2 separate regions of the Homo sapiens genome follow, and region 1 is linked to region 2. A link means that fine-mapping ties the variant in region 2 to the expression of a gene that starts in the linked region. Tissue or cell type: whole blood. Region 2 holds a variant in brackets; the other region holds the start of a gene. All regions are shown on one strand. Distances are from middle to middle.

Evidence for each region. PIP is the estimated chance that this variant, and not a neighbour inherited with it, causes the effect.
Region 1: it holds the start of TNPO3, and the variant in region 2 is fine-mapped to the expression of TNPO3 in whole blood (TOPMed, PIP above 0.99).

Annotation. Positions count from the first base shown.
Region 1 is chr7:129,051,666-129,059,765 of GRCh38, reverse strand. TNPO3 (transportin 3) reads left to right here and starts at 4,655. Exons shown (of 23, transcript NM_012470.4): 1 at 4,655-5,115. The coding sequence starts at 4,996. It also overlaps the pseudogene TPI1P2. RefSeq lists a silencer at 3,517-3,811 and enhancers at 3,517-3,811, 4,623-5,122.
Region 2 is chr7:128,940,277-128,948,376 of GRCh38, reverse strand. It overlaps IRF5 (interferon regulatory factor 5), which reads right to left. Exons shown (of 9, transcript NM_001098629.3): 2 at 6,101-6,306; 3 at 2,343-2,532; 4 at 1,815-1,876; 5 at 1,321-1,354; 6 at 842-1,147; 7 at 256-648; 8 at 49-167. The coding sequence starts at 6,295. Among named protein-coding and RNA genes, the nearest start is that of IRF5, 6.4 kb to the right of the region's middle. RefSeq lists enhancers at 7,594-7,643, 7,754-7,983. The variant T/C (reference allele first, on the strand shown) is at 3,327.

The DNA.
Region 1 (8,100 bases), 110 kb before region 2:
CTCTTGTCACACCTTGCAGCTTAAGTAATCACCATATCAAGATTCTTCCTCTGAAGTTCCTAAATACCTCTCTATCTCCATGCCCACCGCCAACACTTTACTCCAGGCTACCATCACTCCTCACCACGATTATTACAATCTTTTCTTATTTCTGTTCTAGCCACCTTCCCTGCCCAAGCCATTTCATGTCAAACTAGACTTTTTTTTTTTTTAAGACTAAGGAACAAAGAAACATGTCACTTAAGACATTTGCTAAGCACCCACTATGTATCAGGTAATGGCATGAGGTCACAAAGATGGGTTAAACACTGTTTAGCTTCATTTCTTACTCCTACCCAATGTCAACTCTATCCTTCAGCTACTTTCAGTCTTCAGAAGGTAATTTTTTCCCTTGCCTCCAGGCTTTCATACTGTTGCCTCTGCCTACAATACTAAACCCTTTGCCTAATTGCTTCCTATTTATCTATCAGTCTGGTCTCAGTTTAGACATAATTTCTCCAGATGGTGTTACCAATCTCTCTACTCTGGGTTAGGTATCACCTCTATTTTTTTTTCTTTTTTCTCCAACTGTTAGCTAAATATCCATGTGGTGTTTTAATAATTCCTAACCATAGAACTTTTAAAAATAAGTTTTATTGAAATATAGTTCACATTGCCATAAAACTCATCCTTTTAAAACATATAAAAAACATATGCCAGTGGTTTTTAATATATTCATGAGGTTTTTCTGAACATCGTCAATAATTCCAGAGCATTTATTTCCATCAATACAAAAAAAAACAAAACCCAAAACAAAAAACCAACCCTGGAAATGACCAATCTACTGTCTATATTTAGAATTTTGCCTACTCTGAACATTTTATGTAAATAGAATCGCGTAATTAATGTGCCTTTTGTGTCTGGCCACTTTCACTTAGCATAATTTTTCAAGTTTATCTATATTGTAGCATCTATCTGTACTTCATTCCTTTTAAGGGTCAAATAACCTTTCATTGTATGGATATAGCACACTTTGTTTATCCATGCATCAAATGACGGATATTGGGGCTGTTTCTGCCGTCTATTATGAATAATGCTGCTATGAATATGCACGTGCAAGTGCTTGTATGCACACACGTTATCATTTCTCTTGAGTATATACCTAAGTGTAGAACTGCTGGTTCATATGATAATTCTATGTTTAACATTTTTTTGAAGAGCTGCCAAACTTTTTCAACATGGCCGCACCATGATACAATCCCATGAATAGTGCATGAGAGTTCTGATTTGTCCACATTCTCACCAGCATTTATCATTTTTTAAATTTTAGTTTTTCTAGTGGGTGTGAAGTTGTATCTCATTGCAGTTTTGATTTGTATTTCCCTGAGGGCTAATGATGAGCATCTTTTCATGTGCATTTGTATATCTTCTTGGAAGAAATGTCTATTCAAATTCACTGCCCATTTAAAAAACTGAATTATCTGAGGCCAGACATGGTGGCTTACGCCTGTAATTCCAGCACTTTGAAAGGCTGAGGCGGGTGGATCACTTGAGGTCAGGAGTTCGAGACCAACCTGGCCAACGTGGTGAAGCCCTGTTTCTACTAAAAATACAAAAATCAGCCAGGCATGGTTGTGGGCACCTGTAATCCCAACTACGTGGGAGGATGAGGTACAAGAATCGCTTGAACCCAGGAGGTGGAGGTTTCAGTGAGCTGAGATTGTGCCATTGTACTCTAGCCTGGGCAACAGAGCAAGACTCCAACTCAAAACAAAAAAACAAAACACACACACACACACACACACACACAAAACAAACCCAAAAACTGAGTTGTCTTTTCATTGTTGAATTGTAAGAGTTCTTTATATACTCTGGATACTAATCAGTTATCAGATATGTTATTTGCACATTCCCTTCCATGTTGTGGACTGTTACTTCACTTTCTTGATAGTGTCCTTTGATACACACAAAAAAATTTGTTTTGAGATATGGTCTCACTGTTTCCCAGGCTGGAGTGCAGTGGCACAATCTCTGCTCACTGCAACCCCCACCTCCTGGGCTAAAGCAATACTCCCACCTCAGCCTCCTGAGTAGCTGGGATTAGAAGCACCCACCACCATGCCCTGCTAATTTTTTTGCATTTTTTTTTGTAGAGATGGAGTCTCATTTCATTACCCAGGATGGTCTTGAACTCCTGGCCTCAAAGGTAATCCTCTTGCCTCGGCCTCCCAAAATGCCGGGATTACACAGTTGTGAGCCACCAAGCCCAGCACTAAATTTTTTTTTAATGAATGAATGGATTAGGTAACCAAAATATCAAGTTTCTTTTTTCTGTCTAAAATTGTATCAACTCTGTGCAGTAACATTGTTTTCATCATGTTGTTGGCAGTTAAAAATTCCTTGACTAACAATTCAGAAGCAAACGAATGCACAAGATGATAGGGATTGTGTGATTTAACAGGTTTTGGAGCAACACTGATCTGGATTCAAATCCTAACTTTAAGAACTGTATCCTTGGGCAAATTACATTACTATTTTTCTTTCTTTAAAATGCGTTTTTTTGTTTGTTTTTTAAGTGCCAGGGGTTTATTTCCCTCACATGTGGGATGGCTCACATACACAACACACAAAGGCGTTGGCACCGTGGGAGAGGGCAGCACCCCTGGCTTCTGCTTGGCCTCACAGTGTAAGAAGGGAGAGGATGGGTTCTCTCTCCTCCCCTCACTAGGGCCTAGGGGACCCAGGAGCAAATTCCATCCCTTTCACCTCTCAGCCAAGGAGAAGCCACATTGGTGACATTTAGTTCCAACAATTACAGTAAGTGGAGAAGGGATTGGTCTGGTCCCGACCATTACACGGTGAAGGTATACATAGTAAAGGAAGATACAGTTTGGATGAGGCCACAATAGGGTGCAGATGACACCATCAGAAGCATGTGCAGGGGAGGGGCAGTCACTCAGCTTCTGGGCTGCTTAGTTCCTGGGTTGGCAGGAAGGGTAGGGAAGACGGATGGGGCTCATTGTTTGGCATTGATGATGTCTACGAATTCGGGCTTGAGGGAAACACCACTCATGAGGAAGGCAGCCACGTCAGGCTGGCTGGCCAGCTCCTTGCAGGTTGCCTTGGTCACAGAGCCTCCATAAATGATACCAGTGCTCTGAGCCACTGCATCAGAGATGTTGGACTTAAGCCATCCTCGGAGCTTCTTGTGTACCTCCTGGGCCTGTTGGGGTGTTGCAGTCTTGCCAGTACCAGTGGCCCACACGGGATCATAGGCCAAGATGACCTTGCTCCAGTCCTTCACATTATCTGCGATGACCTTTGTCTGCTCAAAAACAACCTTCTCAGTGATGCCAGCTTCCCTTTCATCTAGCTTCTCCCCAATGCAGGCGATTACTCCGAGTCTCTCTGCCAGAGCATGGGCCACTTTTCTGCCCAATCAGCTCATCTGACTCCCCAAAGACACGCCTTCTGAGTGCCCCAGGACCACACCACCCACGTGACTCCTAAGTCTTTGACCATGCCAGGGCTGATCTCCCCAGTAAAGGCCCCATTAGTCACTTTGTAGCAGTTCTGCGGAGCCACAGCAATCTTGGGAGCTAGCTTCTGCCGGGCCAACTCGTTATACGCAGTGGCGAGAGCACAAATCACCTTGGTGTCGGCAGGCACAGTGGCCGCGTTCTGAGTGCCGATGAGCTCCCCCAGACATTTCTTCCGCCCGTTCATCTTCCAGTTCCTCCCCACGAAGAACTTCCTGGAGGGCGCCATGGCGCTGGAGCTGAGGCGCTGTAGGTCAGTGTCAGCGCCTAAAACGGGTTTTATTAATACTTGGCAAGGTTGTTAGGCGGATTAAATGAGATCTTGTAACTACAGTGTTTTACACATTGTGATCATTTATCAAATAGCAGTTATTTACTAGTGCAAAGGACTAGCAGCAATGTTAATATCAATATACTGTTACCTTTTGTCCCTAATTTCTCCATAGTACAGTTTCCAATATTTCTGTTTTCTTTTGTGAATTGTTAGACCACTGGTATTGGATTCGGACAGAAAGGCATTCACAAAAATACAGTTCAATGTGAGAATAACCCTAAAGATGTATGCAAAATGCTCTGGAGTTAGAGCACCAGGAGCTGTAAGCAGAATGAAGACCTCTTTTGGGCTTAAGAACTAAGTAAAGGGGAGCTGAACAAAGATTCTAGGCATTTTGGATTTATCTCAATGTGGCACATATTTCAGGTTTGTAAAATAGTTCAGTTGACTACGTGTCTGTCTCCTCCACTAGAGCCAGCGTAGGTACCATGTCTTAAGTCATCTTTGGATCTCCAGTACTGTGGCCACTCTAGGGAGAGTTGAATTGACGCGCCTTGATCACCAGGGCAGAAAAGGATTCTCTGGAGAGGGATGGGGCAGTCGGAAGGGGTAGGAAAAACCTGGATCCGTTTCCAAGGAGCTGAAGGCAGCTCAGATATGGGGCACATCTCGGCGCTAATGTCCCAAGCTGCTAGCGAGGAACAGAGAGAACACCGGCTCTTCTTCCCGGCTCCTGGCCCGGCAGGGTTACTTCCGGGAGGGGGCGGGGAGACAAGAGGAGGCGTGCCGGGAAGGAGGCCGTTTGTAGTGTACCAGGCGGAAGTGTGCCAAAGGTATCGGTGCTGTCGCTTCCGGTCCGGGTAAACGAACCTTAGGTACACTGGTGTGTGGCCTCCCAAGATAGGCTTCTGAGGGCAAGTCAGCGACTGAAGACGGGAGCGCCAGAATCTGTGGACTCAAGAGTCTAGAATCAAGTGGAAAAACCGGAAAAAAGGCCAGGAACCTGAATACGACCTAATAGCTGTTTCCGAGGGGGCAACTTCCACGGAGAGCCTTCTGCCCTGGTAACGGCCAAAGAGGAGGAGATGGCGCCAGTCAGGGAGCGGCCGTGGCCCAGACAGTGAGGAAGCGCGAAGGCGGAGCAACCGAGGAATCCTCCGGAGAAGAATCAGAGCCGTCGCTACCGCCACTACCGCCACCACCATGGAAGGAGCAAAGCCGACATTGCAGCTCGTGTACCAGGCAGTGCAGGCGCTTTACCACGACCCAGATCCCAGCGGAAAGGAGCGCGCCTCTTTTTGGCTTGGGGAGCTGCAGCGTTCGGTGAGGGGCCCAGAGAGGCAGTTCTGTGCCGCACGGCCGGGGCGGGGTGGAACCTAGGCTCCGGGGGAGAACCTGAGCCCGGCAGTTGACCTCGTGAGGTCCTCCTTGGGGAGGAGCTGCTGTCGTGGGGTGGGGCTGCGAAGCTACATCTTTGCCGCTTTTGGGAAACTAGTCGCACCTGATCGGTCGCGAACTGGCCCTTTCCCCACCCGGCAGAATCTGATTTGTAGGTCTTATACTCTTCGATTGTGGCATCAATCTAATCTTGTTTAAGTTCTCCCTTTGCCGTTGCTTCTTGGGCCGTGCTTTTCCGTTTTGTCTTCCTCCCACCAAATCCAACCCCAGTGTTTCTCCACCTTCCGCTTAAGAAGGCTTTATTCGTCTCCCCTCCGTGTCCAAGACTTGCATCTGGCATTTTGCTCCCAGTCGTAGCCTTATGCCTCACTCTTTTTGCCTATTTTCACTCCAGTTTGAGTCTGTTCTTCTCGAAACTTCTCAGGTTTCTAGATTCTTACTCATGCGAGTTTTCCCCTTGCTTTGGAGTGGCAACATAATATGAAGAAAAAACAGTAATTCTGCTTTCAGAAAATCTTTGGAGTTCTCATTTTGTTTCATATTAATCCTCTAACCTTGTTATTTCTCTGGCTTTTAGATTTTTATTTATAAGATGGGTATCACTGCTGCTTTGATTATTCCATATAAAACTGTGTGTGCATCCGGTGAGATATTTAATTGTAGCTTATATCTGTTGTATTTCTGCATTCTTTGATTCATGTTTTATGCTTCCTGCCCTAATTTTCACACCTTTGCTGTGCTTCATTTCTGTGTAAATGTGTATTCTTGGTTATCTGGCTGACTTAGGTTCTAATGTAGGATGTACTTTAAAAATTAAGTACTTTGAAAACTAAAGAGGCTTTTTTTACAGGCTGACAAAATACTCACCTTTACCTTTATTTTTGCATTTTATACTCACAACCATATTTTTTTTGGCCCCCTTCCCTTTATTTTAACTCATAACTGATACTTAAAGGTGCTCTGCCTTATTAAATCAGCTCCTAGGCTGCAAGTGCATAATATTTAAAAATTTGCAACTTTGACTTTTTAAAAATCTGGTCTTGGTATGGAGCAACTTTGCCTTTTTTTTTTTTTTTTTTTTGAGACAGAGTCTCGCTTTGTCGCCCAGGCTGGAGTGCAGTGGTCCCATCTCAGCTCACTGCAACCTCCTCCTCCCGGGTTCAAGAGATTCTCCTGCCTCAGCCTCCCGAGTAGCTGGGATTACAGGTGCCTGCCCTGACACCCGACTAATTTTTTTTTTTTTTTCTTGAGACAGAGTCTGGCTCTGTTGCCCAGGCTGGAGGAGTGCAGTGGTGCTATCTCGGCACACTGCAACCTCCTCCTCCCAGGTTCAAGTGATTCTCCTGTCTCAGCCTCCTGAGTAGCTGGGATTACAGGCACACGCCACCACACCCAGCTAATTTTTGTATTTTTTAGTAGAAACGGGGTTTCGCCATGTTGGCCAGGCTGGTCTCTAACTCCGACCTCAGGTGATCCGCCCGCCTCGGCCTCCCAAAGTGCTGGGATTATAGATGTGAGCCATCGCCCCCCGCTGCAACTTTGACTTTGAATATTAAACCTAAAAAACTGGCACCCAAGTCCTCTTCAGAAAATAAAGGAATACGACTCACTGTAGGCTACACAAGAAAATCATTCACATATGGTCTCATTTAGTGTTTCTGTGATCTCTGGAGAGTCAACAATTCCCTGATCTTTGTATAGTTTTCTAAAGTGTAATTAGGAGAAGTGCTACACTATACTAAAAAAGTAATCTCTTTCTAATTAAACCTGCTTGTTGTGTGTATTTTAAATCAATATTTGAGTGCTTACCATGTGCCAGCAACTATGCTGGGTGTTTGGATTTGGAAATGAACCAGACAAAAATCTCTGCTTACCACAGAAGGTAGTTGTGATTAAATGAGTTAATATTCTACGAAGAGGTTAGAAAAGTTCTTGGAACATAGAGATTAAAATGTTAGCAATTGTTATTTAAGTATTAGTCACTTTTCTCTCCTTACTTTCCAATACTCTATTACAACCTTACATCATCTTCACCATCACAGTTAATAGTCAGAGTCCAGACAGGAACAGATGGCACACTTGACAGGATAATCTGAGTTTATTTTATAAAGATACTATTATAAAGATTTAGGTATAGTGGTGTGACAAGAAATAGTTTGGTAACCTATAGCTGAACGGTTAACATCCCATAAAAGAGGGAATAGTTACTTGAAAAGTATGGAGTTGGCTGCCTTGAGAGGAATGGTGACTTTCAGCCGAAGGGACATAGCTAGTTTCAGGTGACCTTGAGAGAATGAAGCTGGAGGAATGAATATCCTGACCCTGTTCTCTTAATTTCTTGCTGGGATTCCCCATTGGCCAAACCCAACCGGAAGCCAGGGGCACAGTGACCTGTTGGTAAAGTCTATACAGGTCAGCCTATTGGAGCAGAAAACATGATAGAGGAGGGTGGAAAAGTGGATCTGGAAAATATCCAGCAGTAACACATCACGTTTAGGCAACTTCAGCATCTGGATTGACAGTTCAGCTAACACTTTGGCCTTCTGATTCCTTTACCTCTTCATTCTCTTTAGCCACCTGGTCACACAATCACACCCTGGATCTTGTCTTTACTAAAAAGCCACCACCCAGGCTGGGCGTGCAGTGGCTCACGCCTGTAATCCCAACACTTTGGGAGGCTGAGGCGGGCGGATCGCTTGAGGTCAGGGGTTTGAGACCAGCCTGGCCAACATGGTGAAAACCCGTTTCTACTAAAAATACAAAAATTAGCTGGGCGTGGTGGTGCGCACCTGTAGTCTCTGCTACTCAGGAGGCTGAGGCAGGAGAATCTCTTGAACCCAGGAGGTGGAGGTTGCAGTGAGCTGATATTGTGTCACTGCACTCCAGCCTGGGCGACAGAGCGCGACTCCA
Region 2 (8,100 bases):
TTCCCCAGTTTTCAAGCCAAGGCCGACTTTGGGATAGGGGAGATGTACCTGTACAGTAATGAGCTTCTTCTCTCGGGGTTTGCGGTCAGGCCATTCTTCCCCAAAGCAGAAGAAGATCTCGAAGGGTGGTGGGGTGTTGGTCTGGCCCTTTTGGAACAGGATGAGCTCTGCATCAAAATCAAGGTCCCTAGTCAGAGGCTGGAACCATGCCCTGGGCAAGAGGCAGCCAGGAGGATCACAGCTTTGGGCCCTCACCATTGAGAAAATGCTCCAGGCTGAAAAGCTTGGTCTTGACCTCCCGCTGGATGGGGTTGGGGCATGAGTCATGGGCTGAGGCACAAGGCCCGCTCCAGAACACCTTGCACTGACACAGGCGGATGGCATAAAGGTCCTGGCCCTGTAGCTGGAGGATGAGCCCGCGGTCCAGGACATCCAGCAGCTGGTTCGTGTAGAAGCGCTGCTTGTCACTGGGGATGTCCTCAGGGCTGGGGAAGCGCACTTGCTCCAGGCTTATGGGGCCGAAGAGTTCCACCTGCTCCTGGGTGGCCTCCAGCTGGCTGTAGAAGAGCCGGCAGCCATGGGGGTTGCTGATGGTGAGGGCCCGGGGTGGCCGCCCCCGGTACTGAAACTTGATCTCCAGGTCGGTCACTGTGGGGCAGAAGGCAGGCCCATCCCGTCCTTGAGCCCCACGCCTCCCCATTCTGCAGCCCAGTGGCCAGGCCCAGCCCCATCCGCCCTCCCACTTTTCCCACCCAAGGGAGTCCAGCACCCTCCACCCTCCTTGCCAATCCTACCCCAATCCCCCAGCACTGCTTCCCCGTGCCCAGCCATGGGTCCTTACGAGGCAGCATGTGGGGGCTGATCAGCAGGTCTGGCAGGAGCTGTTCGCCTGCAGGGGGCAGGCTGGCAGGCAGGGGCCCAGGCTCCAGGACCTCAGAGAGAAGCTCCCTGAAGCCAGCAGGGTTGCCAGGGGGAGGAGCCAGGGGGCTGGGGTCTGGAGCAGGGGGACCCAGCACCACGGGCGGCTGCAGAGTGGGCGGCTGCAGAGTAGGCGGCCGCAGAGTGGGCGGCTGCAGAGTGGGCGGCCACTTGACATCCTCTTTGAGTAAAGAATAGGGTGTCATGTGGGGGCCAGACTGCACTGCATCTACAGAGAGTGCGTGTGGACGGCTGTCAGTGCCACCTCCACGAACTGCCTCCCAGGCACACCTCCTCCCAGCCCTGGGCCACCCTAGCCTCCCATCAGCCCCCTTCCAGGTACCTATGGTACCTATAGCTTCTCTGTATACTAGACCCCCAACCACCACCTCCCGGCCCCACCTGTGAGGCTCAGGCTTGGCAACATCCTCTGCAGCTGAAGGGACACCACCAGCAAGGGAGGGAAGAGATGGGAGAGAAAGGAGGACAGGTTATTCCACTGACCTGGGGCTGGGGAAATAACAGGCGAGAACTATGAGGCAACTCCCCTAGCCTCAGTTTAGCTCAGGCAAGACCCTGCCTCCGGTCCCAGCTCGTCCATCCCAGGCAGGTCAGAAAAGCCCTTTGCCTCACTTTCCTCATTTGCCTTCTGCAGGGAGTCAGACCTACCAAGCCCCAACTGCTGCGTGGGTCACACACACAGGGTAATGACAATGCCCTGGGAAGGAGCAGGTGGGGACTGTGCTCCTATCGTTCAGAATCCCAGGAGAAGAAACAAGGAGAACTATTGAGAGGGCCACGGGGCTCCATGGGAGTGGGGCTGCGGAAACCTAAGGCCGATGGGGACAGCAGAGAGCTCGTCCAGGGCTCCACCTGCCTCCTCAACCCACACTCACCTCTTCCTCTTCTTCCTCCTCCTCTCCTGCACCAAAAGAGTAATCCTCAGGGGGCTGGGAGTCTGCACAGCAGGGAGAGAAAAGCAGGGCAGTAAAGGAGTCAATGTCGGAGGAGAAGCAAGATCCCCTGAGAGGCTGCCTGTAGCTCCTATGCAGCTTCTGCCTTCCCCAAAGCTGCCCCCAACACAGGGCGAGGTGGAGGGCACAGCCACCAGGATTGGGAAAGACCTCCCCGACTCCATGGGCCATGAGACCTAGGCTGGAGCCAGAAGCCAAAACGAGGGCAATGGTAAGGAAGAAGCACCCAGGTCCCTGACTGCACGCCAAGCCATTCCTGATATGCCAGTGACCCATCCCAGCCACTCCTGGAAGCCCTGGGTGTCATGACCTAGCGGGAGCCCCCGCATCGTTTCCTGGACCACTGCCTGCTAGAGGGGCCCTTGGCCTGCCTGCACCCAAGAGCTCATGGCTGGGGGCCAGGACATTGCACAGCCTCCCAGGTGGCCCACAGAGGGCTAGGCCTGATACCTGTGGGAGCAGGGCCATTGGAGCAGACCTCGTAGATCTTGTAGGGCTGAGGTGGCATGTCCCGGGGCCCGTCGTAGATGAGGCGGAAGTCCCGGCTCTTGTTAAGGGCACAGCGCAGGTTGGCCTTCCACTTGGCCGGATCGGCTTCATCCACGCCTTCGGTGTATTTCCCTGTCTCCTTGGCCCAGGCCTGGGGCAGGAAGAAATAGCCGACCACAGAGAACCTCATCCCTGCCACAGCCCCAGTCTGCCTCCTGTCCCATAGGAGACTCTACTGTGTGGGGAGAACTTCGGCTACAGGCTGAGCCTCGCTGAGCCCCAGACCTGGTTTGCAGCGTGGGAGTCTGCCACAGTCCTGCCCCAGCCCTCAGGCTGCCAGCAAGCTACATGAAATCTAGGGGCTATGAGATGCATCCATAGTCCCTGCTCCTGGGAGGGTGAAACAGTGTGATCTCTAAGGAGGACAGCGTGCGGGATAAGGGTGAGCACCCTGGAGCCAGGCTGGGTTTGAATCTGGAAGTGCCCCCCGCCAGCTGTGTGCCAGGCCATGTCACTGCCTCCCTTTGTCTTGATCTCCTCACAGTTGCCCACCTCATGGAGTGGCAGCGAAGACTCAAGGGGTTGATGTTGGCTGGGCACAGTGGCTCGCACCTGTAATCCCAACATTTTGGGAGGCCAAGGTGGGAGGACTGCTTGAGCCCAGGAGTTGGAGTCCAGCCTAGGCAACATAACGAGACTCCTGTCTTTACAAAAAATTAGCTGGGCATAGTGGTGGGTGCCTGTGGTCCCAGCTACTCAGGAGGCTGAGGTGAGAGGATTGCTTGAGCTGGGGAGTTCAAGGCTGCAGTGAGCCATGATTATGCTCTGCACTCCAGCCTGGACGACAGAGTGATACCCTATCTCAAAAAAGATGAGGGGAGTTGATGTCCGTAAAGCACTCAGAGCTAAACCTGCACATAGGACAGGCTCGAGACACTGGAGCTG[T/C]TGGTATTATTTTGAATGGCAATTAGGTGAGGTGAGGGTTACCAACATTTCTTTCTACCTTTTAACCCAGCTATTTGATTTCTAGGAATTCATCCTAAATATCATAGAAGCATTCACACAAAATATTGCACACACAAAGTTATTCGCAGCAGTGCTGTGTGTAAAAGATGACCCAAAATACCCAATGCAACATCCATCAATGAGGGGCTGGTGAAATTACGGCCAACCCATTGAATGAAAAATACTGGGCAGCACAAAAAAAGAAAAAGCAGGAAACTGTTTATAAGCTGACATGTAGCAATCGTCAAGAAGTATTAAGTCTAGACAAATATGCAGATATCTAGCATTTCTTATGAAAAGTAGAGGAAAGGATAGTTCCATATTTGCTTACATGTGCATAAAAATCTCTCAGGAAGGCTAAACAAGAAAATGACAACACGGCTGCCTCTAGGGAAAGGCTAGGGAGGGGAGTGGGTGGTGATGAACCAGGGAAGGAGGGAGACTTTTTGCTCTAAACCATTCTATGCCTTTTAATGTTGAATTTTGTGACTGTATTACCTATACAAAATAAATGGATTAGCAAAAGAATTTTGGAAAGGTAAGGATCAAGCCCAAAAACTAAGAAAATATGTACCCAAAGTTTTAAAAAATAAGCATTGCCTTTGACCCAGCAATTTTCAACTCTAGGAAATCAACCCCCAAAATAATTGAGGATGAAAAAAAGGGAAGCATTAAGACAGCCTACATGACAATGTGGTTTTTAAGTTCAGGTTTTAAAAGCAATCTCAAGTATCTAAAAACCAAGACTCAGTGACCAAATTGTGCTAAACCATTCCAGTGGAAATTCTACAGTCACGAAAAGTGATGTGGACGTATGTTGGAAAGGAAAGCTGATCCTGATATTGGGTGAAAAAAATCCAGGCTATAAATCAAGATATTCACTTGATTCCAATTTTGCATTCCATATACACACATGTGCAAAAAAACTAAAATGTAAGCAAAAACTATTATGCGAGGTACATCCTAGCATTAAGATTATTGGAGAGAGCACAGTGGCTTGCGCCTGTGATACCAGCTACTCAGGAGGCTGAGGTGGGAGGATCACTTGAGCCCATGAGCTTGAGACCAGCCTGGGCAACAAAGTGAGACCTCATCTTTACAAATATCAAAATCAAAAAATTAGGCTGGGCACGGTGGCTCACGCCTGTAATCCCAGCACTTTGGGAGGCCAAGGCAGGTGGATCATGAGGTCAGGAGTTCAAGACCAGCCTGGCCAACAGGGTGAAACCCTGTCTTTACCAAAAATACAAAAAAAAAAAAAAAAAAAAAAAAAAAAAAAAAAATTAGCCGGGCATGGTGGCAGGTGCCTGTAATCCTAGCTACTCGGGAGGCTGAGGCAGGAGAATTGCTTGAACCCAGGTGGCAGAGGTTGCAGTGAGCTGAGATTGTGCCATTGCACTCCAGCTAGGGTGAAAAAGCAAGACTCCATCTCAAAAAAAAAAAAAAAAATTAGCTGGGCATGGTGGCATGCACCTGTAGTCACGGCTACTCAGGAAGCTGAGACTGGAGGATCACTTGAGCTGAGTTGGAGGTTGTGCTATGACTGCACCACTGCTCACCAATGGTGCAACACTAGGCAACAGAGCAACAACTCATCTCAAAAAAAAAAAAAAAGAGTATATATGTACAGTTGTAGTACATCAATTAAAAAAAAAGATTGGGCCGGGCATGGTGGCTCACACCTGTAATCCCAGCACTCTGGGAGGCTGAGGTGGGTGGATTGCTTGAGTCCAGGAGTTCAAGACCAGCCTGGGCAACATGGCAAAGTCTCTACTAAAAGTACAAAAAATTAGCCAGTTGTGGTGGCAGGCACCTGTAATCCCAGCTACTCAAGGAGGTTGAGATGGGAGACTCACCTGAGCCTGGGAGGTCGAGGCTGCAGTGAGCTGAGATCAAGCCACTGCACTCCAGCCTGGGTGACAGAGTGAGACCCTGTCTCAAAAAAAAAAAAAAAAAAAAAAAAAAAATTGGAATCTGGTCAACAGTGTGAGGCCCTGTCTCTAAAAAAAATTAGAAAATTTAAACAATTGAAAGATTGATGATGTATCTGAATCTTATATTAAAAATAGTTTGTTCCCAACACAAAGAAATGACAAATGTTTGAGATTATGGATATGCTAAGTACCTGATCTGATCACTGTGCTTATCAAATCACCACTGTGTACCCCATAAATATATACTAATTTAAAAATAAAATTTTTAGAAAGATGATGATCGTTGGCTTCCTTTAGCATATGCGTGCACTGAACAAGTCCTCATGAGTAATAGGAGTGAGACGAGCAAAGGGTGAGTAGGACGAGTTATGGGAAGGCCTTCTGGGGACCCTCAGTCCCCACGATGCTCTAGGGTGCAGGTTAGAAAAGATGTGCCCTAGGCCAGGCGTGGTGGCTCATGCCTGTAATCCCAGCTACTCAGGAGGCTGAGGCAGGAGAATTGCTTGAACCCAGGAGGCAGAGGTTGCAGTGAGCTGAGATCGTGCCACTGCACTCCAGCCTGGGCTACAGAGCGAGACTCTGTCTTAAAAAAAAAAAAAAAGGAAAAAGGTGTACCCTGTGTCTACGTCTGCATCCCCTTAGTCCGGGCCCGGCATCAGCAGCAGCATGGTAGCTGGGCGGGTGGCCAGCCTCGAGGAGCTGCCTGTGTGCGTTATGTGCGCTCCTCTTCTGGGGACAGGGTGCCCTGGAGGTCCAGCCAACCTCCTCCCCGGGGCTTACCTTGAAGATGGTGTTATCTCCGTCCTGGCTGGGACCATGCCTTGTGGCATGCCTCCAGGGGATGCAGAATAATTTCTTTTCCCCGTTGACCCATTGAAGCCCTGGGTACTGGCAGCTGTTCACCTGGGCCACCAGCCAGGGCTTCAGCCGCACGCGGCGGGGTGGGGTGGGAGCCACTGGGATGGACTGGTTCATGGCAGAGGGGTCTGCAGGAGAAAGCCAGAGGGGAGCCTCAGCAGGTCTGCAGGTGGATGGGGACAGGGTACTCAGAGGTCAAGCTATGGACCACAAAGGATGGTCTCTCCAGTCCATCTAGGTATTTAAGGCCAATTCTCTTTTCCAAGCATCAGCTTTCTTGTCTAGTGTCATGGAATTTTGTGTTTGGAGGAAGGGAAGGAGAGTTACGAGTTAGTGAATGCTGCGGGCGCGGCCCCAGGTGCCCTTTACCGGGCAGAGGCATCCATTCTCCAACTGCTAACAGCAGCAAGCAGCCCGTTGGCCAGAGAACCGCCTTCCACTACTCACACCACAGGTTAGGCCCACCCCTTGCTCTTGGGGGGCAGCCCACAGCCAGTGACTGCCTGACACCAAAAGCCCGGCTGTCTTGTCTCAAGCTGGCTACCTGGGACAGCGAGCGCTCTGTGGGATCAGCCCGAAGACAGCCTCCTGCTCAGTCTACACCCCTAGTTCGATTCTTCCCTGCCCAAGTTTTCTCACCCTCCATCCCCTGAGAGTTCCCTCCGGAGATGCCCTCAACAAGAATCTCATCTGGAGCTCCCAAGGACACCTGCCCTCAGAGGAAAGCAGTTTCTCAATATCTTTAGAGAAATCCCATCAACCAACTCAACCCACCTCCAATGACAGCAGGCACCAAACAGATGTTACCTCTCTAGGGCCATTCATCTAGGTTCTTGGTCCTCCCCCTTCTCCTCCCACTGGACACGCATTCGGGTAGCACTTAGGAAGGCCCTAACGCCTGCCGGAGCCTGTTAGGAAGGCTACAGGAAACAGAAGCCACAGCTCTAACTGCTACCTACCCAGGGGCACGAGCCCCGCCTCCCAGGCCACAGCTTCACTGCCTCCCTGGAGTCAGGCCAGAGGGACCCTGCCTCCTCCCCTTCACCTGCCCAACTCCCTCTCCAGCCCAGAACCGGAAACTCTCCACAGTCCTGAGTCCCCTTCTGTCCCTCTCCTCCCCTTACCCATGCCCTTGGCCCTTCACTTGAGACCCCTGGGTGGAAGACAGAAAGGACTGGGTCATTACACAGCACAGCCCATCAGAAGTGAATGTGTCGGTCAGCAAGTAAGGAGCAAACGTTCGAGCTGAACTCCCTGTGTCTGGGCCTGCTTTGGCCTTGCAGCATGGAGCCTCAGTTTCCCCTGAAATTCCCTGCCCAGTACCTTTTGGGGTTGCACCTGCCTAGTGCCGCCTCTGAGCTGCTACTGTCTCACATTGCAGGCCTCCCTCAGAGCCCAGCTCTGCTGCCACCAACCCAGGAGAGGTAAGGCCGGCCCTTGCCTGGCCCAGGGGCTGGGACGGGGAGGTGTTCAGAACGCTCCAGCCCTGCCCTGGCCTCAGAACACGCGGGCTCAGTTCCGCTTTCTGCCCCAGCCTCCACCCGGCCCCAGGGGAAACGAAAGTGGCTAGACCGGGACAACTCAGAAACCAGACTCACTGTGGGCTGAGGGAGGGAGCCGAGTGGGTCCCCCAGACCAAATTTCCAACCTCCCACCCAGAGCTGTTCCCCGCACCCCAAACTTGCAGACAGTTTTTGTGCATTTAGTGTGGTTTATAACATGGGTGTGCACCCACCCATAGTTGTATCTGTAGACCCCTGAGAGGCCTTGGCCCTAGAATAGAGGGGTGCCAGTCACCAGCGGCACACAATTCTGGCCGAGCAAGGGTGGACAGAGGAAGCTCTGTCTGCACAGAATCGGGGAGAGCTTCCCTAATGACCCCCTGGGCTGAGGCCGTGCAGGCGCTGGTGCCGTTGGGGAGC